2 separate regions of the Homo sapiens genome follow, and region 2 is linked to region 1. The links come from fine-mapping of genetic effects on gene expression. A gene starts in region 1. The other region holds a variant in brackets. All regions are shown on one strand. Distances are between the middles of the regions. Region 1 holds the start of INSIG2 (insulin induced gene 2). Region 2 overlaps LOC124907879 (a long non-coding RNA gene).

What was found. PIP is the estimated chance that this variant, and not a neighbour inherited with it, causes the effect.
Region 2: its variant is fine-mapped to the expression of INSIG2 in whole blood (INTERVAL, PIP 0.94).

Annotation. Positions count from the first base shown.
Region 1 is chr2:118,083,141-118,096,054 of GRCh38, forward strand. It overlaps INSIG2 (insulin induced gene 2), which reads left to right and starts at 5,331. Exons shown (of 6, transcript NM_016133.4): 1 at 5,331-5,401. It overlaps LOC107985940 (a long non-coding RNA gene), which reads right to left and starts at 5,291. Exons shown (of 3, transcript XR_001739662.3): 1 at 5,111-5,291. RefSeq lists enhancers at 5,036-5,085, 5,096-5,285.
Region 2 is chr2:118,124,374-118,137,287 of GRCh38, forward strand. LOC124907879 (a long non-coding RNA gene) reads right to left here. Exons shown (of 2, transcript XR_007087211.1): 2 at 7,723-7,999. Among named protein-coding and RNA genes, the nearest start is that of INSIG2, 42 kb to the left of the region's middle. RefSeq lists an enhancer at 6,735-6,814. The variant C/T (reference allele first, on the strand shown) is at 5,554.

The DNA of each region.
Region 1 (12,914 bases):
ACATTGTCTTCGGGAGGGACCTAACATTATATAAACCCCATTATGTGTGAGTTCAGTTTGAATGGCGTGTCCCAGAGATGAAACAACAGTACGGTGAATTAGCAGGACAAAAATCTTTTAGAGAACACCTTGTTATGTTTTCTGACCTCAAATTGTATGGGCCCTTGTAATAATTAATAGCTAGTGTCGCTTTTATATTCTGGGTCTCTATCATTGCCTCTGTGACAAAGAGTTTATAGTCTGTAATCTTTCCAGTTGTCTTCTCACTCTGATGTTTTACACCTCAGTAGCTTTGTCTTAGAGGTGTATTTTGCATTTGCTTGCTCATCCATAGTGACCTCGCTTGGGCTTTGTTTAGTTTATTTGTTGCCTGATGATACATACCAAGCCTTACAGCGACCATTTGACTTTATATACATTCAATTTATTGACTTTAGGTGTCATTGCTTCTGTACAGACCCATCCAAAAATGCCCCCAAAGTGCTATGCCACTAAAAGATAAATGTCCTCATTCTCCTTTTTTGGAGCTGTTGATGTGCAAACCTCCCCCTGCCCCCTACCATCCACCTCAATATTGATGACATTATACATCCATTTCAAGATGTCCTTTACATTACTATACTTTTAAGCTTACTTACGTTATGCTTTTCTTCACAGTGAGTTTGCAAATATTTTGCTTTTATGATGTATATGAGCTTAAGCCTAAGAATTCTCTCTCTAGTTTTATGTTTAGAACATTGTAACTTTTTTAGGTTTAAGTAATATTATGATCAAAATAATTTAAGTCAGTATGAGGGGTACATAAAAATTATTTGTGTGAAAACATTGTTCTAGGATATTCCTATTACATTTCTGAATGCATCATATAGCATTATTCTTAAATATTTAGCCAATATTTAAAATTGGTTTGCATTCTCTGGCTATGTCTCATCTATTACATTTGCTATGTGGCCAAGGAAAGCCTGGAAAGTATTAAAAACTCATCATGGATAATCATGAATTGATTGTGTTTAATACCACTGTAGATAAAAAATAGCTTTATTGACATATTCAAGTATGGCAATGTCAGGGTTTTTCTTTTCTTTCTCGTATCTCTATTGTCTTTTAAAAAATTCCAAACACAGCATACGCTTTATGCAAGGCATGTTTTCAACTACCTCCTATTAAGTCAATAATTCCAGATCTTCATTTCTAGACCAATTTGGGGATTCAAACTCCAGATGCACATTTCCACTGCTCTACTGGACATTTTTACCCGAATGTTCAACAAGTATTTCAAACTCACTCAACCTGAAATTCAATTCTTGTACTCTTGTTCTAGATCAATGATGTTACTTTCACTCAGTCTCTCAGGCTCAAAACTTTGAAATCAACTTCCACCTTCTTTTCTTCACTCCTAACATTAGCAGTTATCAAGTCCTGATGATTCTTTGTATCCTCTGCCATTGCCTTTGTTAAGTTTGCACCACCTCTCAGCAGACAATCGCACTAGCTGCCCACGTAGATTCCCTGTCATCAGTTGCCTACATCAATCTAGCTTAAAATAGGAAAAATATATCTGATCTCATTGAGAGTTCTCAGTTGACTTGCTTCTGTAGAGGTGGGCTGACCTAACTTCTGCATTTCCAGGCTGTGAATTTATTGATGGCAAGAGATCTGTCTTATTCATTGTTGTGTCTCAGTGTTTAACAGAGTTCCCACATGTAACTGCTGCTTACTACGTGCTTGTGAATGTTGACAGGGCACTAGTGAGTGACTAAGAGCATAGGGTTTAGAATCCAATAGATCTAGGTTCAATTTCTGCCTTCTCTGCCACTTAGCTATGAAGTGACCTTGGACTGATTAACACTAAGTCAGTGATTCTCAACGCTCAGGTGGGGCTCGGGCACTAGAACTTTTAATAAATCTATGGGTGATCCTAATATGCAGCCAAAGTTAAGAATCACTGCTTTTAGCCTTAATTTCTCATCTGCTATTTGGTATCTATTTCAAATGGGTTTTGAGCATGTGAAATGAGATTTAACTTAGCACAGTGCCTGGCACACAGAAAGTGATTACCATCAATCATGATGTTAAAATACAACTTCAATTTGCAATTTTCTTTTCAATTGCTACCCCCAGCTCTGCCTTTCTTTCAATTCCCAGAATGCACCAAGTTTTTCAGCTTTTGTGCCCTCACACCTGTTCTTCATCCTGCTCTTAGCAGATCCCTCTCAATCTTCAGCTCACGCATGGTCTCCAGGTATTCCCCTTTATTCTCCATCACAATATGGAGATGTTCCATCTTCATGGCACTTGTCTCAGTTTGTAATTACATATGAATTCCACCATTTACTGTGTTTCCCCCACAGGACTCTAGCTTCACAAAGGAATGTGGCTTGTCTGTATTGATTTCCTCCTAAAGTCCAGTGCCAAGTGTCTGGTACCTGCCAGGTGCTCAGGTGATAGCTGGCTTAGTAAATAATCCATTCTGATCTCTCAAAAAAGCAAAATTCCTTGACTTTCTATGTCCCTCAAACATATTTCACATCAAAACACCGTAACAAAAACCAAAACCAAAAAAGTAGAATGGTCTGTAGTGTGTGGGGTTCTAGCTACTGAATAGGAAAATTGCAATAGTAAAAAAATTATCTTGGATGTTTTTAATTTGGGTAATGTTTCCAAGTCCAAGGTTCTTAGAGGCTTACTGAATGGCTTAGTCATCAACCTGTAGGCAATAATTAATGTGACTCCTACAATATCTCACTCCAACAAAGTCAATAAACTTTTGTGGGTGTTTGTATTAGCTAAGTAAAGGGCTTTTTGTTTTCTAACTTATCTTTGATCTTCTTGGTTGGGAGACCAAACAACATATAAAGCTAATGGAAAAAACCTTTCTTGAGGTCAAGAATTATCAAATTGTTGATACTTCTACCTATAAAAAAGACCTCAGAAATCATCTAAACCAATCTCTCATTTTACAGATGAAAAGAAGAAAGCCTAAAAAAATGAATTTATTGCAAGTGATTACACGCATACTGTCTTAGTGCTAAAATACAATCCAGGTTTCAAGGATCATTCACCAGCGTTCCATTGACCACATTACACCAACTTCAAAATAACTCAGTTGTTATGATTTCTTGATGTTCTTAACCAATTTATATTCTGGCATCAATTAATTTAGGATTTCCATGTTTCCATAACAAAAATTTAGTCCAAATTCATGAGCCTGATGTTTAGAACTCACATGTCTCACCATACCTCTTTGTACATGCCAGACTCTGCAATCTGTTTCATGTTTTTCCAACTCTGAGCTTCCACCAGAATGCACAGGCTAACCATATCTGCATATTTACCCTCAACGCCCACTGAAAGACCACATCTTCCATGAAAACTTTCCTCAAATCTGGTCAAAGAAGACAATGGCCTTTTGTATTTCTCCTAGGGATTTTATATTCCTCCTTGTACTGCAGTAGGAGTAACTGCATTAGATATAGGAACCTTGGAACTGGTGCTATATGGTTTTTGCTTTTTAGGTTCTGTCACTACTTGCAATTAATACATATTTAAACGAAAATAAATGCCCCTCTAGGTTACAATGTTCCATAAGGATTTTCTTGAAGGCAATTTCTAAGTGTCTGAAAAAAGCTCGGTTGGAGTAGACATGAACTGGACATACAGGACTTGTATTGCTTTAAGGAAATACATGATGTCAGAACATTTTCAAATTATTGTCTCTTTTCTGAATGCTTTCTCTATTCTTTTAAAAATCATCGTCCATTCTGTATAATTGGCCCAGATCTTTCTTACTGGTAGTGTAAAAACTTACAGGAGTGAAATTTGAAAGCTACAGAAAACATTAGAGAAAACACTAAGATATAGGAAATGTTAGAGAAGCATCATGCAAATACTTGCCTAGAAACATTTTGTTGGAATTCAGATTCTTTTTCAATTTTCAGAAGTAAATGTAGATAAAAAGGTCAAAAAACAAAAATCCATCTTATCGTTTATCAGTTCAAAGTAAATGAAAGGAGTTTACCATCTGACAGTCCTTTGGAAAACTATTATGCAATTACTCTCGGCCCAGATTTCATCTAGAACATTCAAGTCCATTGTAATCTTACCACATCCATACACGTTTTGGGTTAAGCCACCTCCAAATGGAATAGCTCAATAACTAATACACTCAAGAGAGATTATTTTTTCTCTCTTTTTAAAAAGAGTTGCTTAAAAAAAACAAATTCAGGGGGCAGCTCACGCCTGTAATCCCAGCACTTTGGGAGGATGAGGCGGGCGAATCACGAGGTCAGGAGTTTGAGACCAGCCTGGCCAATATGATGAAACTCCATCTCTACTAAAAATACAAAAAGTAGGCAGACATGGTGGCATGTACCTGTAGTCCCAGCTACTGGGGAGGCTGAGGCAGAAGAATCACTTGAACCCGGGAGGCAGAGGTTGCAGTGAGCCGAGATCATGCCAGTGCACTCCAGCCTGGGTGACAGAGAGAGACTCCGTCTCAAATAAATAAATAAATAAAAATAAATAAAAATTCAGAATAGGGAAGCAACTCCTCCTTATGACGAGTACCTTTCGGCACTTATATGGGCTTGCTTTTGCATTGATGGCACCACTTTCATTCAAAAAAAAAAGTTCGCTTGCACAATCTGCAAAGATCTGTTTGGCTTGGTTTCATGTTCTAAAAGTATGGTTTTAGATTAAATGAAAAATAATACTTCTGAAAAATAAGCGGTTATAAGGTTTTTAAGTTTTCTTTATGTTGGTGTAAACTTATAAAGCCCTTCCTATGAAAACTGTCCCCCAAATCACATTACTTGGTCGTCCTCGAGGAACGATTTTGAATGAAAAGCACATAAAGTGCTGTAGCATGGAGACGAGAGACAAATAACTATGCCCTTCTCCCAAAATAAGTTATGACTTACTAGGGGAGGAAAAGGAGCAAAGAGTATAAAGCCCGGTCCTCTGCGGGAAGTACCCGGAGGCCTGCCCCGGAACGCGCTCCTTTCGGCTACGAGATGAGGGGCACGCAGACGGACGCGCCCCTCGGTGAGTGTGCGTGTATCAGTGCATGATTCCTTTACTCCGCCCACAGGGTCTGGGCATCCGTCATTACCTACGGCTGCCTGGTCAGCAAACAACAGCAGATCCGACAACCGCCAGTCACCTCGACGGTCCACGCCCACCGCTAGCCTCCAGTTTCCCGCAGACCGGAAGCCCTTTTGCCCCGGCTCGCAGGTCCACGTCTTATTGACAGCAGGAACCGGAAGCTCTTCTGCCCCGATCGCCTGCGCGCGGCCTCGTTGGCCGCACAGGCGCAGTGGAGCTCGGGCGGAGTTGTGGGAGTGGAGGAGGAAGAGGCGGTAGGGGGTACGGGGGCTGGTCCCAGAAGATGGCGGAGGCGGGGGTGAGTTGGGGGTCTCCCGGCGAAGCGCGGGTGACGTGGTGCTGAGGAAAGCGGCCTGAGGAGGAGGGTGGCCCTTGGGAAGAAGAACTACTTGTGTTTTTGCAGCCTGGGAACCCTGGTGGCAGGTGCGGGGAGCCAGGACCACTGATGGGCCTGCAGGGCAAGGGGCTCCGCTTACCTGAGAGGGGTCCGCAAGGTCCAGAAGGGGACTGCGGGATCGGGGAGGGGGTATAGGAGGGGTCGAGGCTCCCCGGACAGTGGATGAGTGTCTGAGCGGGAAGAAGGCTGGAGGACGGCGAGAAGGGCGACCCAATGGTCTGATGAGGTGGAGGTCAGCGAGCTGTCAAGCATAGAGCTGCCAGGACTTGGGGGCTTGTAGCCTGGGAGAGAAGACTCAGACTTGGGCGGGGATTGGATCCAAAGAAGACAGGTTGTCGTAGTAAGTTTATAATCCACTAAGGAGATAGGGCATTGGGTTGAGGAGTAATACTCTGGCATTTTTGACTGGAATTGGTTACCTATGGAATAGGTGTTTCGGTAAAGCCAAATAATTCTTGCCAGGGCCTAGAAGTGGATTTGATGATAATTACTAGATTTTAGGGTTGCTTAGTGGGGATTGGCAATATGGAGAAGGAAAGCAGTGTGGATTATGGGAGTGGGCGCGGGCAATGGCGCTAACACTTAAGTGATAATGACCCATGTCCAGTTAACGTTGGAAAAAGTTGTTAAAGTATGATATTAGCTAGATGCTCTAGGAAAATATACCATGAAGAACTTGCTGTTTTGTAGGATTGATGAAGAAATGCTTTAAAAAGGAATGGTTAGGCTTGGCAGCTGGGCCACTGAAACTGTTTGGTATCAGTATTGCGGTGGAGCTGAGGACTGCAGGGGAATGCGTGCTCCCGTCCTGGTGCAGAAAAAATAAAAGCAGCCAGACAGTAGCTAGATGGTGTTTTGTAACTTTTGGGTTTGGCCCTGATAGTGAACCACTGAATGAAGATGGATGAAGGGAATGCTACTAATGGGGGCCCCAAAGAAAACAAAAATCAGACGTGTGCTCTTCCTGTTTTCTGTCTTTCATTCTTTCCCTGTACTTTGTGCTCAGTACTGTGTTTTGTCATTGTGTTATGTCGTAGTTCTCAGTTCACATCTGCTGTACAGTGACCAAGCTGTGAATCATGTCCACTCGGGAAAGAGGTTGATTCTGTTTAACTGACAACTGTTGCTTTTGCAGATGGTCACACGGAAAAGGAAAGAATAAAATGCAGTTCAGTAGTTTAAAGAGTTTTCTTTGTTCTCAGAAACTTATCTCGAAACGATGGAGTAACTTTTTTAGGCACTGAGATGTGACATTTAAAACCTGTAAGGGGCTGTAAATGCAGCTAACTTACTGGTTTCTATGTTTGGGTTTTAATGTTGAGAGGAAAGAGTTGCAGTGTTTATAAGGCAAATATTGCTTTTCTTCCTAGAAATTTTTAACGTCTCTAGCCCATGATACATGTAGATGTGTTTTTATTTAGGGAGCATTAAACTGTTGCATTGATTTAAGTCTGTTTTTTTCTAATGTTAGTGCTTATTCTATTTCAAGAATGCTATTCTAATTAAGAGAGCATATGATGAAAAATATGTGAGGTAGTAATTTAACTTTATTATTTAGTAGCTTACGTGACCTAAGCACCTGAAGAAACAGGGTTATCTGAGGGAGTAAAAATACTTCTTTTACGGCTAATCATTGGAAGAGGAATGGTCTTGTCATTTGGTTTTAGGGGGTGTTGCAGTTGTTACAATGCAACAGGTTCTTAAGGTTACTAGAAGATTTTGTATGTGTGTTTGTTTTCAAATGCTTGTTGCCTCTAAGTTGTTTCAGTGGCCAACATGAACCTTGATTTTTATTCACGAAGCTCATAATCACTTATAACTCTTTTTTAACCTGAAAGTAATAATATCAATCCATTAATAGGCAGCCATACACCTGGAATAATGTTTTTCCAGTATTGATGATTCATCATTGATCTATGCAAATTATTTCAACTTTTTTTCTTTTTGTTTAGTATTGTACTTTCCAGAAATTTTAGGCCAGGGCTCAGCGTAGAATTTTTCAAGTCTGGTGGAAAGTTTTTCTTTGTGAATTGTTGAAAACATTATTTTGGTATTAATAGTAGTTTACCAACATGATTTTAAAAACGGTTTCTTGTGTGGCACTTAAATTGTTTTGTACCATGTTTGTGAATGGAAGCAGTGTGGTGAAGCAGGAAGAACTCCGGACATGGGGTCAGAGTGGGTGAGCCTAGTCCTGGTGCTACCTGGTAACAGTTCTGTGATCTTGGAAAGTTACTTAACCTATTTTATTTTGTAAAATGGAAACTAACAACACCTGCCTATTTACCAAGATTGTTTTCGAGAATCTATTGACATATTGTCCTTTAAACAGTATCTTTATACCAGAGACTTTTTCCCTGGTCAGCAAATTATTTGTCAAGTAATCTAAATTTTTCAAATATAGATTTTTAAAAAAAATTTTGGAGCATCAAGTTTATCATTAATGTAAGACTAATATTTAAAGATATAGATCCACTTTGTTTTAAGAAAATGGTATCAGTACAAAATCAGAAAAACAAACTTCAAAGTAAACTAAGGGAGCTTACTTTCCCTTGAAAATAACCCACTCCTCTGACTCCTCTAGTGTGCAACTGATATTATAAACATGCTTTTAAAGGAATTTCATTGTTGCATGGTAGGGGGTGAAATGGTTTTGTGGACGCCTCTATCCCTTTGATGAGTCTGGTCATTTTCTGGCATTCACTATACACGTTTGTGGTAATAAGAACTGATGGTACTGTCTTAATCTTGTTAATCCAGTTGACTACTTTGCATGTCATTGGCCTTGCTAATAGAGTGAGAGAATTGTTAGATTACTGATTCTTTACTTTGTTTGGATCATGGACTTTTTTGAGTACTTTATATAAATTATGGAACTTTCATCCCAGAAAAAAATGCATATATATACAACTTTTTTGTTTTGTTTCGCATGGGGGTCTCATACCCCTTGGAATAGATGATTTCCCAGTTCCCTGCTATTTCTTAAAGCTTTTATTTTTTGTCACCAGTAATTATATACTATTGTATTATGATGTAGTTACAAAATTAGCTTTTTGAATCTCATTCAAATAAATGTCAAGCAAATGTGTTATTTTTAAGGAAAACTTTTGGGGCGAAGTAGAAAACTAAACAAGCACTGCCAGGAAAGGTTAAATAAGCAGCTGTGGTAGAAAACATAAATAAACAGAAAGTCTCTAGCTGTCTTGAAATAGAATGAAGTCTGTAGCAATCAGTGGCTCTCATTGTGGGGACAGTTTTGGTTATCACAAATAGGGGAGGGGGCATTTAGTGGGTGGGAGCCAGGGATGCTAAATGTTTTGCAATGCTTAGAACAGTCTCACACAGCAAATAATTGTCCTGCCTAAAATATCAGTGCCCTTTGACAAATGCTGGTCAGTGTGAGATGGGGGCTAGCATGACTGAAATAGCTTTTTTAAACTGAAGTTATTTTCCTTTTTAAAAATACTATTAAACATAAAATACCCCTTTCCATTAATTCCCTTTTGGAAAAATCACAAACAGAAACAAATGATACGCTGTCTCAATGTGGGTTACTCAAAGTATGCCCATCTTCTAGCAGCTGTTAGCAGCACGTGAGGGCAACGTGCTGTGTCTACTGGGATCTGGGGAAGTAAAGAGTCAACTAATGTTCTTATACAGAGTGTTAGTTTGCTATTTTTTCTTTTTACTTTAAAACATTTTCACACCTTGATCTAGTACTATTAAAGAAAATTTCAAGGTGATTTTACATTTATTCTCATCATCTTTGTGCAATTGTATAGTCACCTGCTTGTTTTGGCTTACTATCTGAGAGTGTATTATAGTTGAGATGGTATTTCAACATCTAACCATCTTTTCAGTAACCAAACACTTTTATATAGAACCATCTGCCGAAAAAGAAGTCTGAGCAGTTGAGATGGAATGGAATTCAAGGTATAGAGGCAAGAGGATGGGTTTTGGAATCAGACCTGAAGTGGAATTTCAGTTTTGATACTGCATGTCATGTGACCATAAGCAAATTGCTGAATCTCTTTGACTTGGTAGCCTCATCTGTAAAATGAGGATGATAATGTCTACCTTTATGTTTGTTTTGAAGAGTAGAGTTACTATATGTCTGGCAGGGAGTAGGCCTTCCATAAATGGGTGCCCTATAAAGAATAATGATGATGATGATGAGGAGGAGAGTTCTGTAGCTACTGAACCTTGCTAAAAGCAACCAGATGATGATGATGATGATGATGATGAGGACGAGGAGAGTTCTGTAGCTACTGAACCTTGCTAAAAGCAACCAGATTATGATGATGATGAGGAGGAGGAGGAGGAGGAGAGTTCTGTAGCTACTGAACCTTGCTAAAAGCAACCAGATGATGATGATGAGGAGGAGGAGGAGGAGGAGGAGGAGAGTTCTGTAGCTACTGAACCTTGCCAAAAGCAACCAGATGATGATGATGATGATGATGATGAAGGAGAGTTCTGTAGCTACTGAACCTTGCCAAAAGCAACCAGATGATGATGATGATGATGATGAAGGAGAGTTCTGTAGCTACTGAACCTTGCCAAAAGCAACCAGATGATGATGATGATGATGATGATGATGATGATGATGATGGAGAGTTCTGTAGCTACTGAACCTTGCTGAAAGCAACCAGATGATGATGATGAGGAGGAGGAGGAGGAGGAGGAGGAGAGTTCTGTAGCTACTGAACCTTGCCAAAAGCAACCAGATGATGATGATGATGATGATGATGATGAAGGAGAGTTCTGTAGCTACTGAACCTTGCCAAAAGCAACCAGATGATGATGATGATGATGATGAAGGAGAGTTCTGTAGCTACTGAACCTTGCCAAAAGCAACCAGATGATGATGATGATGATGATGATGATGATGATGATGATGGAGAGTTCTGTAGCTACTGAACCTTGCTGAAAGCAACCAGATGATGATGATGATGAGGAGGAGGAGGAGGAGGAGGAGAGTTCTGTAGCTACTGAACCTTGCTAAAAGCAACCAGATGATGATGATGAGGAGGAGGAGGAGGAGGAGGAGGAGAGTTCTGTAGCTACTGAACCTTGCCAAGAGCAACCAGATGATGATGATGATGAAGGAGAGTTCTGTAGCTACTGAACCTTGCCAAAAGCAACCAGATGATGATGTTGATGATGATGAAGGAGAGTTCTGTAGCTACTGAACCTTGCTGAAAGCAACCAGATGATGATGATGATGAGGAGGAGGAGGAGGAGGAGGAGAGTTCTGTAGCTACTGAACCTTGCTAAAAGCAACCAGATGATGATGATGATGATGAGGAGGAGGAGGAGGAGGAGGAGGAGGAGGAGAGTTCTGTAGCTACTGAACCTTGCCAAAAGCAACCAGATGATGATGATGATGATGATGATGATGATGATGATGATGGAGAGTTCTGTAGCTACTGAACCTTGCTGAAAGCAACCAGATGATGATGATGATGAGGAGGAGGAGGAGGAGGAGGAGAGTTCTGTAGCTACTGAACCTTGCTAAAAGCAACCAGATGATGATGATGATGAGGAGGAGGAGGAGGAGAGTTCTGTAGCTACTGAACCTTGCCAAAAGCAACCAGATGATGATGATGATGATGATGATGATGATGATGAAGGAGAGTTCTGTAGCTACTGAACCTTGCCAAAAGCAACCAGATGATGATGATGATGAAGGAGAGTTCTGTAGCTACTGAACCTTGCCAAAAGCAACCAGATGATGATGATGATGATGATGGAGAGTTCTGTAGCTACTGAACCTTGCTGAAAGCAACCAGAATGCATGGCATGCTCATATGCCTGGATTCCACAGCAAGGAATGGTCTGCAGGATCAGGTCAGGAGGAGATGTTTCAGGGCATTTTCAGTTGGTATTTAGAGTATGTTTTCCCATGAATTAGCTATACTGTGGATTAGTTTTTTTAGTCCTTTAAGCCATAGAGTTCAATTACATTATAGACTAAGTAGGTCAGTGAGGACTAGCTTGGGAACAGAATTTCCTCTTGAATGTTGAACACAGAGCTTTGATGTGGCATAGCCCCAGTAAAAAGGCCCGTTGTCTAAGTGTTTATCACATGGAACTGACAGGTTGTGGAGGTTACTAGTACTTACAGATATTCTCATTTTCATACTAGTTATTTGTAATTCAGCCCCATTCTCTGCGGTTTACATGAGGGCTTTGTTCCAAAATTCATTCAAAGGTTGTTTGATACTGGAAAACTCAGAGGAAATGTATAAATTTTATGTGATGATTAGGAGCTAGGTTTGCTCTCAAAAAGGCCTACTTTACCCTATATGGTTTGATTCAGAAAGAGTTAACCCAATTTAATTAAGCAAATATGATTATGTGGAGCTCCCACTGTGGGCTAAGCAGGAACTTTTCTGGGTGCATAGGCACAGTGATATTAATATAATAGTGAATAAGACCTTCATAAAACATTTACAATCCATAAAGCAACTATACCTTTAATTAGAAAGTAGTCATTATAAGTGCTACACTTTTTAAAATAAACTGCTTTTGGATTGAAGGAAATATCATTTCTGTACCGATTTATGAAAGTGCCAAAGATATATTGTTGGATGGGATAAAAGTAAATTACCTGTGTAGTATTTTTCCCATTTAAAAACTGTTAGTATTCATAGAAAACATATCAAATATGTGACAGTTTGGGAGACTGAACATCATGGTAAGAATGAGGGCTTTGGAGTCAGACTGCATGGTTTTGAATCCCAGCTTGGCCTCTTACTGGAGATGTGAACTAGGTCAAGTGACTTAACCTTTCTTTGCTTTTTTGCGTCACCTATAAAATGTACATAATAATTGCACTTACCTCTGAAGGTTATTGTGAGGATTAAATGAATTACCACATGTCAGGTGCTTAAAACAGCACATAGAAAGCCCCAAAAGGAAAGATCACTTTGGTTAGAGGAATGAACAAGTACCTAGACTGATTGTAGTAGCAAAGTTTTAGGTTTTAGGAGTCAGGGACCAAGTGGATAAAACTCCTTAGAATCTAGCCATTAGATTGTTCTTCATTTTCTTCACTTCCTTTCTTTTGCTTCGTCCTCCAGCTTTCTTACAATCCCTTCTGTGATTGCAACAAGGGCAGACTGTTGAGACAGGAGTGGGATACAGTTGTGCCCCTGGGGAGAGTGAGTCAGGTCTGGTTTCTGTGTTTGGTGTATATGTAGGTGTGTGCGTGGTGGTCTGGTTTTGTAGAATGTTTTTGTGCGGATAACCAAATAATAAACATTAAAGCGGGTTATTTTGTTCTTCTGTGGAGGTTGTCCTTGTAAGCAAGTAACATTTTATTGCAAAATATACAGCGTCTTCAGTCAGAATATGCTTATCTGTAAAATATAAAATACAGTATTGTAACTGATAGGCTTAGAGATTTAGGGAG
Region 2 (12,914 bases), 41 kb after region 1:
AGGACTCAAAAAGTATACATTATTTAGATAATATTTGATTACATCATCTTTATTTCTCCTATGGTGCTGGCCCTGCAGTCCTGTGAGGTGAGGTAGGCAGGAGTTGCTATTAAACCATTAACCCATGTCATCCAGCAAATGACAACCTCTTGCTGCCACAAATACAGCTTCTGTGCATTGTGAGGGGCAGCGATGCACAGCAGGAAGGCTCTGGATAAAGGTCCAAATACCAGGGGTCTAGTTTTAGTTCTCCCGGCAGCTTGCTTAGCAGACTCAAGTTCCTGTTTCTTCACGCATGTAGTGAAGCCAGTGGGTGAGTTGGTCTCTAAAAGCGGCAACAGAGCACAGTGTCTCAGGCTGGGGCCCCGGCTCTGCTGCTCACTAGCAGTTTGAACCTGCGCAAGTTATTTTACGTCCACGTGCCTTGCTTTTTTTTTTTTTAATTTGTAAAATGGTGGCATTATAAATTGATGTAAGAGTTAAATAATCTAAAACATACAAAATATCTAGAAGAGAACTTGTCTCATAGTAAGTGCTTAGGTGTAATTATTAGCAACATCACCATTTAAAATCCCCCACCAAGCCATGAGTAGACCTTGTCCTACCCACCATGGAGATATAAAAGGAGGACTGAGTTTTCCAACTTGATTTGGGAAACAAAATTTATGTATAGGAAAGATAGAAAACAATAAAAAATTACCTGATTGAATAAAAAGTTGATTCTTCCTCCTTTCAAATAATACCAATAAAAATGAGAAAATATAGACCTTGTTGAATTTTGGGGCAGGGGCCTTTCTTTACAGCCAGAGTGATGTTTGATTGGAGATGATCTACAGACCCTGTGATTTCTCCATACTCTACCTTCCCGCAGGAACTGGCACCTCCTCGGCCTCTCTACATCTCAGTTTCGAAAAAGCAGCACATCCTCTCAAATCAATTTGACTGAAAATAAAGATATAAAAAGACCTAAGCGACATAATCACAAACGTAGATATGATGGATAGATGTCATACTATGTGCCCTGAAGTTAGGGAATATATTTTAGTTTCGAGTGCCCATGGAACAGCCACAGTAATTAATCCTACCATTGACCATTGCAAAGAAAATCTCGATGTCAAAAAGTAGCAATAACTTCAGGCTAACTTGGACTTGTTCTTGTGCAAACAGCCTACGCATGGGTTCTGATAAACCACATACCATCCCAGGCCCATAATGTTGGTCTAACGCTCACATTGGATAAAAGAGGAAAACAAAACCTTAAGTGATTTGCTCAAGTCCTTCTGGCAGAGCCTGGACCTCCAATCTTTCCGTTACTTTCCTCAAAAAGGAACTGCAAAGTGGTTAACTGGGCAGTATTGCCCAAGACCACCCAAAGGGTCCTGATGTATCCTTAGACATGTATTGCAGCATGCTGCAGCAATTCTACTGTGTTTATCGAGGATCTACTCTGAGCCCGAACTGGAGACATAGAGCCAGAAGATATGCCCCCTTCCTCCAGAGAGCTCAGACTTAGGGATAGACAGGCTGGGACACCTGCAAATACCTGTTACTACAGAACTGCACTCAAGATGCACAAGAAGCCCACAGGAAACCTGCAAAACTAGCCCTGGAGGTCAGGCCAACCTTCCCAGAGTTTTAAGGGATAAGTTGGAGTTTGCAAGATAAAGAGGTGAGGAGTGGTACAAACCCAGTGTGAGAAGAGAGACCTTTGCCAAGCTGCCTCTCTGTCCAAAGGGCCCTCCACCTCCCCTGCTGACCATTTTCACTCTCCAAGTGTCCCCTCCTCAGAGACAACCCAAGAAGACACCCTCTTGTTTCTCACCCACTGATTGGTTGGTTTGTTGTTTGTCCTTGTATCCCTGGCCCAGTTCAATGCTTGAATCTAGTAGGTGCTTGGTAAATATTTGTTAAGTGAATGAATGATTTATAAGTTGTGTTCTTGAAGGAAAGCTGGCCAGAATTTTTGCATCAGTATGTTCAGTTTCTCCTGTGGCTAGCATGAAAAGCCATTCAGGTGCTTATTGTTTTCTGAAAGAGCCTGTACTAAGTGTGTGAAGGCACAGCTAATGACTTCAAATATTGGGGTTGAGAACAGTCATTCCCTAACCTGGGTCCTCTTATCCCTCTTTGCTTTGCTCCGCCCCCACCCCCTCTCCGCGTTCCACACATAACTCATTCTCTGCTCACAAATCAGCAAGGATGGCAAGGAAGTCTTTTGGTGAAAATTTTGGGGGGCTGCCTGAGGGCTATATGCATATGTTCCATTGTTATTTATTATTTGCTGTGTGATATTCAGCTGCTCACTTAACTTCTCCAAGGCTTAGTTTCTCCCTCTGCAAAAGAGAAATGTCATCATGTCTACCTTGTTTATTGGCCATGTTTTTGCAACTCATAACAGAACACCTTGTATGTAATAGATGCTCAATAAATGGGGGCTGAGTCAGTTGCTACTATTATTGGTGATGGTGACAGTGTGTTTAGCGTTTCATTCATCAGTCTCAGCACATTGCAAATACCAATGAGCAGAACCTCCTCCTCCATCCCGTTATGTCTCTGTGTGCAGAGAGCAGTAATGAGTAGACAAAGATATTGAGAAATTAATTAATCAGTACTAAATGAGTGAGGCAGTGAAATGTGAAGTCTGGAAAGACAAAGACAAATACAAAAAATAAGACTAAAAACAAAGACTTTTTCTATCACAAGGAAAAATGCTCCTCTAGGTTAAGGACTCAGGACTCTTGTTGGAAGTAAATTCTTGGTATCTAACCTAAATTTGTCACCCTTCAACTTCCTTTGAATTCTTGGAGGATCCTCGCTTGTTTTCCTCTTTCTGTTCTGCTTGCTTGTGTCAGATTTCCCTGGGCTCTGCCTCCTTGGCCCTCCCTTAAATGTCAGCATTTCCCAGATCTTCACCTTCGGATCCTGCTGCCTGCCATCCTGACCCACCCAGTCACCCAGAACAGGGACCTCTTTTTTTTTGTTTGTTTAAGACAGGATCTCTCTCTGTCACCCAGGCTAGAGTGCAGTGGTGCGATCATAGCTCGTTGCAGCCTCTTCCTCCTGGGCTCAAATGATCCTCCCACCTTAGCCTCCTGAGTAGCTAGGACTACAGGCATGCGCCATGAATCCTGGCTAATTTATTTTTATATTTAGTAGAGACAAAGTCTTGTTATGTTGACTGGGCTTCAGTAGTCACTCTTGATTCCTCTTTCTCTTTCACCAATTGCTATATCTTAGCAGTTCTCAAACATTCCGTCCCCTATGCCACAACTCCACCTTCAGATACCAGTCCTAGCAGCTGGATTTTTGTGTCAGAACTTGAACTGTCTCTCTGCCTCCAGCTATTGCCCATAATCCCCTCTCCTGGTATGTCAACCACAGTGTAGTTGGAGTGAGCCTTCCAACACATGCTAAAGAACCCCAACTGTCTTCTGAGTGTTTTTCTACAGAGGTGGAGGTCAGGATGGGTACTGGGTGGTGGGAGGTATGTGCTTGTCTAGCTTCCCAGCAGAGGTGTTACGGGACCACCATGGGGAAAGGCTGAGAACCTATGGGAAGGCTTGACAAAAAATGCTCAGGAGCTTCATGGTGGGACCAGGCAGGAGGGAGGCACCCAGGGTTCCCCTCCACACACAGTGCGCCTCTGCACTCTGCTGCCCTCAGAAGACAGTTGGGGCTTCTTAGCATGGTGCCCCAGCCCTTCAGGACCTGGCTCCTGCCACATCTTCAGCCATACCCTGCCCCTTCTCTCTGTCCCTCCCACACTGAGGACAGCAGTTCTGCTCTCAGTTCTGGGGGCTTTGCTCATATTGCTCTTCTTGCAGGGCACAATTTGCTCCACCTTTTAGCCAGACCTCAGTTCAGGGACCATCTCCTCTAAGAAGACTTTGCTGACAACTCCCCCACCCCCTCACTCAACATATACCCCCTTATTATCCCAGGACATCGGGCACATTTACTGCATTGTAACAGGCTCACAACATTTATGACATCATATTGTGGTTGTCTCTTAGCTGACTGTCTACTTGTGTGGGGTAGTGGTGAAGGTGCATTCTCTGGAGCCACCATGTCTGGGTTCACATCTAGGCACTACCACCCATCAGCTGAGTGGCCTTCTACAAGTTCCTTAACCCCTCTGTGTCCCTGTTTCCTCCAACTGAAAAATGAAGATGACCATAGCACCTGCTTCTCAGGTGGGCATGAGGATGAAATGAGGTAATAGCCATAGAGTGCTGGGAACAGGACATGCATACAATAAGCCCTACAATAATGTGACATTATTATTAGACTGTGATCACCTTGAGGGCAGGGTGATCTGCTTTATCTGTCTCTGAATCCATAGTTTCCAACTAAGCCCCAAATTAATGATGAATAGTAATAGCACTAACAATGATAAGAGCAATGAACATCTGCAGAGGTTACACTTTATAGCCTATAAAATGTTTTCACAAACTGTATTTCATTTAGTTGTCAGCACACTGCTGTCAGGTACCTAAGATTATTCCCATTTCACAGATGAAGCAACTAAGGCTCAGAGAGTCCTGGATGAGTCCAGTATGTTGGAGGATTCTAGACAGCCATCTGAATTCAATACTCATGCTTTTGGAATATGGACATTTTAATAGCCAAGACTGAGTCAGCATCTTCTCTTTCTTTGGAAGTCTCTCTTCCAGATTCCGTCTGGTAAATTTCCACTTGTACTTCAACTCCTAGCTTCGAAGTCATCATTCCAGAGGATCTTACTGCCTCTTACATGCTGCCTTGGCTATTCAGTCTATGCCACCCAATCGCATTTCTCTTTTCCTTTCTGTTTTTTCCTGATGTTCCCACTACCCTGTAATCTCTTTAAAGGCAAGGACCATTTATGGTTCATCTTAGTATCTCCCATGCCTAACATGGCATTAGCAGATGAAGGTGCTGGAAACAAACTGAACTGAAGCTTGGTTCCTTCAGTATGTGATATGCACACAGGGTAGAGTATGATGTGGATTGTAGGCAGAAGCACAGTATGTGTGGAGGAAGGCCCTGGACTCCCTCCTGCCTGGTGCCACCATGAAGCTCCTGGAAATTTTTTCTCAACCCTCCCCATAGGTTCTCAGCCTTTCCCCAGGGCAGCCACAATAGTACATCTGCTGGGGAGCTGGACACAGCACCCCCTCCCACCTCCCAGGACCCATCCTGACCTCCACCTCTGTAGAAAAACCCCCAAAGTCTGAGGTGACTTCACTGTAGGAAGCCAAGAGTGGCCATCAATGCAACTACTTCACCCTAAAAGAGAGGGAAAAGAAAGAAAAACTTGTTTTGCCCTTTCAAAATGCTGCCAATCCTTTTGTGAGCCTTAGTGGAAGGTGCATATCCCAAAACTTTATCTATTGATAGAAGATAAGAGCAGCGCCTTGTATTCAAAATACTGTTTCCTTCTCCTTAAAGCCTGGTTCTCCATCAAATACAAGTCTCAATGGCCTCAGCCCAGAGCCGCGCACTCCCTGAAATCACAAGAATAATGCCTGGCTGAGATTTGGACCATTAAGAAGGTCCCTCCCTGGAATGGTT[C/T]GGGAACTTTAGCAACTGATAATGGTGCTGGAGTTCAATTTCAAGGGCTATCCAATGTGAAGGGACAGATGATTTTAAGTAGTTTATTTCTTCATGTTTTGGAAACTTGATATCCTCTTTTATAAGTTGGAGTCATGATATTGTTTTGCAAAGTGATTGAAAAGATGAAATAACATAAATAGATACAGTCATTGTCCTCAGGGAACCTCTTGGGCCCAACCAGTGAGCCAAGTCTTTTGCAGACTAGGTGTGACTGGAGCCGGTAACGGTCCCCATCTTCACCCTCACTATATTCATGTCCATTGCCATGCATCTGTGCAGCTCTTTCATACCCAGACTCTGGGCTCAAGTTGGTGGTTTATGTTGGTCAGTGGAATAAGGCAGACAAGATGGTGTGCCAGTCTGGAGACTAGGCCTCAAGAGCTCCTGCATGTTTCACTTTTCCTCTTGCACTGCTTCCATCGTCGTGAGAATGACATGACTGAGGTAGCCCGCTGATTCCAGAGGTGGGTGAGAGACACCCGGAGCAGAGCTGAGTCACTGCAGCCAAGGCTGGCCTAGACTGGCCAAGCGATAGCCAAGCCCCAGATGCCTCAGTGCTCCCAGCCGAGATCAGCAGAGCTGTCCAGTCAAGCCCACTGTAGAGCAGTGCTGGGCTCTGCAGACATGTGCCAAATAATGTTCGTTGTTTTAGTTTCTGAGGTTTTGTGCAACAAAAACTGCCTGAATTGAGATCAGTGGTGAAATAGAATGAGAGCATTGATATGAACATGGTTTACAAACTTTTAAGGACTATGAAGATTATTCCAAAGGAATGCAGGAACAAAGAGAGAATTGTGTCAACAAAGTCTGGCACATGGCAGGATTCCACTCACTTTCCACAAACTTCGAAGGAAGAAGTAGCTAATTGAATCTGAAGTTTCATTCACTAGAAACTAATATAGAGAATTTACAATAACTTCTCCTGGATGGAAAGTAAGATCCATCGTGTATATGTTAAACAAGAGAAGCATTTGATCCCTTATCTTCCTAGTTAACATTGATCTTTAACACTGATTATGTGATAGTCTTCCTAATACAAAAACTGCCTGATGCCTGATACCTTGTGCCTTAACACTTGGGAGGATAATGAACATGGGAGCCCACAGGCTGGTTAGGGCACAAGTGGTCCGAAAAACCCCAGGGCCTTATGAACAGTTTATAGTTCATAACCGCGTGTCTCTAGGTTTGACTTCTCTTGGTTTGAATCTTGCCTGAATATAGTCAGATTTTCAGATAAGCTTTGTGATTGTAGAGGTTTTCCTAGGTGACAGATGGTGGTGGAAAGGAAGTACATGCAAAAGCGTCTCTTTTTTTTTTTTTTTTGAGACAGAGTCTCGCTCTGTCGCCCAGGCTGGAGTGCAGTGGTGTGATCTCAGCTCACTGCAACCTCTGCCTCACTGGTTCAAGCGATTTACCTGCTTCAGCCTCACGAGTAGCTGGGACTACAAGCACACACTACCACGCCAAGCTAATTTTTGTATTTTTAGTAGAGACAGGGTTTTACCATGTTGGCCAGGCTGGTCTCAAACTCCTGACCTCAAGTGATCCGCCCGCCTCAGCCTCCCCAAGTGCTGGGATTACAGGTGTATTTTTATATCAACAAATTATCTCCTGTCTCCATAAAGCTCATCAAAACTTTTTTGTTATCTGTGTGCTCCCCAACCCCATCCCCCTTGCTATTTGTTTTAGGAAGACTATCACATAATCAGTGTTCAAGATGAATGTTAACTAGGAAGATAAGGGATCAAATGCTTCTCTTGTCTAACATGTACATGATGGATCTTACTTTCCATCCAGGATAAATTATTGTAAATTCTCTATTAGTTTCTAGTGAATGAAACTTCAGATTCAATTAGCTACTTCTTCCTTCAAAGTTTGTGGAAAGTGAGTGGAATCCTGCCATGTGCCAGTCTTTGTTGACACAATTCTCTCCTTGTTCCTTCATTCCTCTGGAATGATCTTCGTAGCCCTTAAAAGTGTATAAACCACGTTCATATCAATGCTCTCATTCTATTTCACCACTGGTCTCAATTCTAGCTGCCTGACTTAATGAGCTTGGCCATCCTTCAGCCTGGGTATATGTCTGGCCTGGCTAATTGCTGAGTGACCTAAATCGAGTTACTTAAATTCTCTGAACTCCTGTTGCTTTATTTCTAATGGGGTTAAACAGTACATAGCCAGAAGCGTTGTTGTATTAACAGCACCCAGCACAGTGTATGGCATACAATCACACTGAAGAAGTGTCAGCGTCTTCCTTCCTTTCAGTCTCCCATCCCTGCCTTTACTTCATTAGTTTAAACTCAACTCTCCCTCCTCCTTTGAAGCCACCGCACGTGTTGTCTCTCCCATTTCTTTGGCAGCCAATTGGCCTTCCATATCTCGGACTCCATATCCAGGATTTTAACTGTGAATCAAAAATATTTGAGAAAACAATACAATGAAAATAACAACCCAACAATAAAACATACAATAAATCTTTACATAGCATTTGCATTGCATTAGGTATTATAAGTGTTCTAGAAATGATTTAAAGTATATGGGAGGTTGTGTGCAGGTTACATGCAAATATTACGTCGTATTATATAAGGGACTTGAGAAACTGTTTATCTGGGTAGCCTCAGGGGGTCCTGGAACCAACTCCTCTGAATACTGAGGGACGACTGTATTACCACATAACAGTTCTGATATTAGGTCTTCTATTATTCATTCCATATTGTATTTATATTTATTTTTTGACAATATTTATTGAGCACCTGTTCTATGCCTAGTGCTAGGCATTAAGGTTAGTTTATGTTGTAAGTTACAGAAAACCTTAGCTGGGCATGGTGGCTCACGCCTGTAATCTCAGCACTTTGGGAGGCCGAGGCAGGTGACACCCTGAGGTCAGGCATTTGAGACCAGCCTGGCCAACATGGCAAAACCCCTTCTCTACTAAAAATACAAAAATTAATGGGGCGTGGTGGCAGGCACCTGTAATCCCAGCTACTCGGGAGGCTGAGGCAGGAGAATTGCTTGAACCCGGGAGGCGGGGGTTGTAGTGAGCCGAGATCGTGCCACTGCACTCCAGCCTGAGCAACAGAGTGAGACTCCAACTCCAAAAAAAAAGGAAAAAAAGAAAAAAAAAAGGAAAGAAAAGGAAACCCAACTCAAACAGGCTTCATCAATAAGGATCACCTAGTGGCACCCAGATGGAAGGCACATAGGCATGGAACTGTGGCTATGCAGGTTGATTGGGGTGATATTCCTCCTGTTTGATTTATCTATCTGTCCCTTTCAGGATTTTTGCAATGGTTTAATACCACTAGTGCTATTAGCAATATTTTCTTAAAGTGATTTACTGTTTCCCTAAATAAACTTACTTTAAAAATAAACTTTAAATCAATACTCTAAAGGAAAACAAATATCCCTGCCATAGGAGGTAATGACAAAATAAGTATAATGACAAAAATAAGTACAATAACAATGATCAAATTCTGACCAATGTTGTTGGCCCAAGCCCCTGAGTCTGAGGCCACCTTGTTCTTTATTGAAAAGGGAAATTAGAAAGAGTTGGAGTGGTGTTTTTAACCACCAGACTAGCATCAAACTAAGACTTTCTCTTTGATATAATCAGAATTGAAAAAATAATTATTTTCTCAATATAAGATTCAATGATGTCTAATATAATGTCCAAGCTCTACCTAAAATTCACTGCAGGTGAATTCTATCCATTCCATATAAAGGCACATACCATGTAATGAGAGTGTAGTCAGAGACTGCTAGGATTCATGCTAAGGGTCAAAGTGATAAGAGCTGCCCATGGTGAGGTGAATTTCACTGGCAGGGGCTGCTTGAAGGGGTAGACCATGGGGCAGACATGAGGCAGGCAGTAGGGATGGGCTTAATGAGAAAAGAAGACAGAAGATACTCAGGGATGATGTCTCCAGGGCTTGGAAACCAGAAATTAGGTTCTGAGGGGAAAGTGGGTACTTAGAGGTGTCTCAAAGAGAATCTCTAACATAGAGGTAAAATAACTGAAGCCAGGCCCAATGAAGAGGGCAAAAGATAACTGGAGCAATTACACTGCCTAAAACATAATGGCCTCTGAATCATGGTAAAACAGTGGGCAGAGGGTGGGAGTCATGGGTCACTGGGCTAGGATTCTGAAAAGCTGTGAGCAATCTGGTGTGATTTCTCACCGCCTAGGCAGATGTACACATTAAGTTAGAGATTTCAAGTTCAAATACCTGCATGTGTCAGGCAGGTAATAGGAACAACTAGTTTTCATGGGTGTAAGATAATAGTGGGTAGTGGGGGTTGGGGCAGAACACACACCACACGTAAAGACACTCAGATTCTGTGAAAGCAAACTAAAAGAAAACACTGGACCTGCCAAACAAGCTGCATCCAAGAAACCTGCCCCTGCACCCCCCCATGTCGTTAGACTCTGGCCTGGATTATTTCTGTGTGTTCCCACATATTGGAGTCACTACTCAAGATCCAGATGAGTTGTGTTGGTTCTGGTCTTCCAGAAAGTGGACCCTAAGACATGATTAGACTTGTGGGAGAGTTACTGGGGGAAATGCCTGTGAAGGAAAAAGGAGAGGAAGCCAGAATGGCAGGGAGAGCTTTTAAGTACAGGTACAGGTGTAAGACCTGGGAAATGGGGCATGGGAAGAGAGAGTGTGTAGGGGTGTCTCAGGCTGCAGGAAGGTCTTAGACGGGCCATCGAGTAGTCCTCAAGCCAAAGATGTCTTCAAAGGGGCCCATGTCTGCGGGAGGGGGCATGCCTCTTAATATCCCTGCTGCCCTCAGTCGCTTGCTGGAAGCAACAGGGCAACGGTGGTGTGAACTCAAGGATGGATCAGGAAGGCAGCAGCTGGAGCTGTCAATCATACCCCCAGAGCAGGAGATCTGAGTGGTGCCTTTCATAACCACAGCATGGCTGAGGGGGATCTGATGCCCCCCAAGTAGCAGGCTTCTTGGCTACTATTCAGCTTCTGTGCTGGGGAGAAAGATCCAACCTTCCTGTCTCCTTTGGGATCCCCCATCCCAAATAAGGAGAATGATTGGATCTTGGAAGTCGACAAATGATAAATGTCCATTATCAAAAGAGCTCTGTGAATTGATATTGTAACCCTTCCCATTAAGAAAAGAAGTTTCTTAGCCAAAAATGTTTGAGAAACACCTATTTTTAAACAAACATTAAATAGATTTCCAGGATTTCCCAGAGCTGTTACTAGGCTGATGTATATCTTGAGTGTCCATGAGAATGAAACAGTATGTACAGTTTGTCACATTTATTCGACCATTGACACACACTCCCAAACTCCAGTTTTTTATTATATTTTAATAGAGCATCTTGCAAGATGCATTTCAATGTGCTGTACATGCTGCACATCTTCTGTTTGTCCCCCCAGATCCACTCACCATCCTTCTCCTTTTCCTCTGTGCCCCAGAGGATAAGCTTCATGAACAAGGTCTTGACCCTCTTTTACCCTTTATTAGCTTTGCCCAGTAGAACGTTTACTGATGATGAACATGTCCTATGTCTACCCTGTCCAGGATGGCAGCCACTAGCCACCAGTTATTGAGCACTGAGGAACTAAATTTTTAACCTTATTTAATTTTGATTAACTTAGATAGCTAAGTGTGGCTAGTGGCTCTCTTACTGGGCAGCACAGTTCTGGCTTCTGGTTGGGTCTGGCCAGTAAGAAGCAACAAGAGAATCCTGGGGAGGAAAAGCAGGGTGAAGAAGATTATTTATTTCCCTGGGACCTCTCCCTGTGTGGTTACCATGGGTCATCATGTCCTCTGCAAAGGCCTCAGCTCTTGTCAGACATCCCTTGCCATACAGCCACTCTCTTGCCAAATTCAGCAGAGACTTCCTTTTCCTGGCCTTTGAGGACGAGGGGTGGTCAATGCAACCTAATGCTGGTGGCTACTGTGCCAGCCTTGTAGGTTTCCCTACCCTAGCCTGCCCACACAATTGCAAATGGTCCTGTTAAAATTCTGCTCAGTTACTTGGGTTGAGAATATAATCTGTTTCCTATCAGAACCCTGCCTAGTCTAAAGCAGTGAAATAAAACTTGTTTTTAATTTTGAAAAATATTTTCTTGTAGTAATAGTAAAAACATCAGAAAGGACTTATGACAAGAATCACCAATCATTTTCCCCTAAACACTCTTTGTCCCTCCTCCCGATGCCTATAGGCAAGAACTTTTAATTCTCTTCAGTTTTACCTTTGAAGGTTACCTCCATACCTCAAAATAATAGGCTAAGGCCACTCTTAGTGCTATGTCAACTGGAGACATTATCCATTTCTCCCAATGGGCTACATGAGGATTTCCCTCACTTGCACCACCCCTACCTTCCCTTCCTCTCTCCTCCCAATTTTTGATAGCTATATTAGTATTTTAAACTTCCTCTACTGCTTACCACATACATTTAAAGAATAGATATAAACTACTATTTCTTGTTCTGTTGCTTTCAACTGCATCTCTTGACCCCCCGTTTTGCAAAATGAAGGTATTTCCTTCCCAACCTGTTTTTCTTCCCTTTTCATCTCCCTGTTTCTGTCAAGCTAAACCTTTATTTTTTACACGGTGAGTGTGGAGAACATGTACATTTTGTTTTGTAGCCACTCAGTTTTCTATGCTTTGTCTATGAGAGTTTCTAAAAATTAAGAGCCAGAAATGAACATCTATGTTATGTTGATATTGTTTAGTACAGGACTAAGGAGCGTGCATTTTCTTTTCTCCAGGCCTAATATCACAATCCCTTTGCTAGTCAAAGAGAACATTTCTAGCATCAGAGCCAAATGTACTTCCCCCGACTCCTCTAATTGCTCAAAATTATACCATATTTTAGTTCTTCCTAAAGAACTAAAGATCTTTTGTTCTTTCTTTCTATTTATTTATTTATTTTAAATTTTAGATTTATGGGGGTATATGTGCAGATTTGTTATATGAGTATATTGTGTAATGGTGAGATCTGGGCTTCTTATGAACACTTCACCCAAATAGTGAACATTGTAACCAATAGGTAATTTTTTTTTATTATACTTTTAAGTTTTAGGGTACATGTGCACATTGTGCAGGTTAGTTACATATGTATACATGTGCCATGCTGGTGCGCTGCACCCACTAACTCGTCATCTAGCATTAGGTATATCTCCCGATGCTATCCCTCCCCCCTCCCCCCACCCCACAACAGTCCCCAGAGTGTGATATTCCCCTTCCTGTGTCCATGTGATCTCATTGTTCAGTTCCCACCTGTGAGTGAGAATATGCAGTGTTTGGTTTTTCGTTCTTGTGATAGTTTACTGAGAATGATGATTT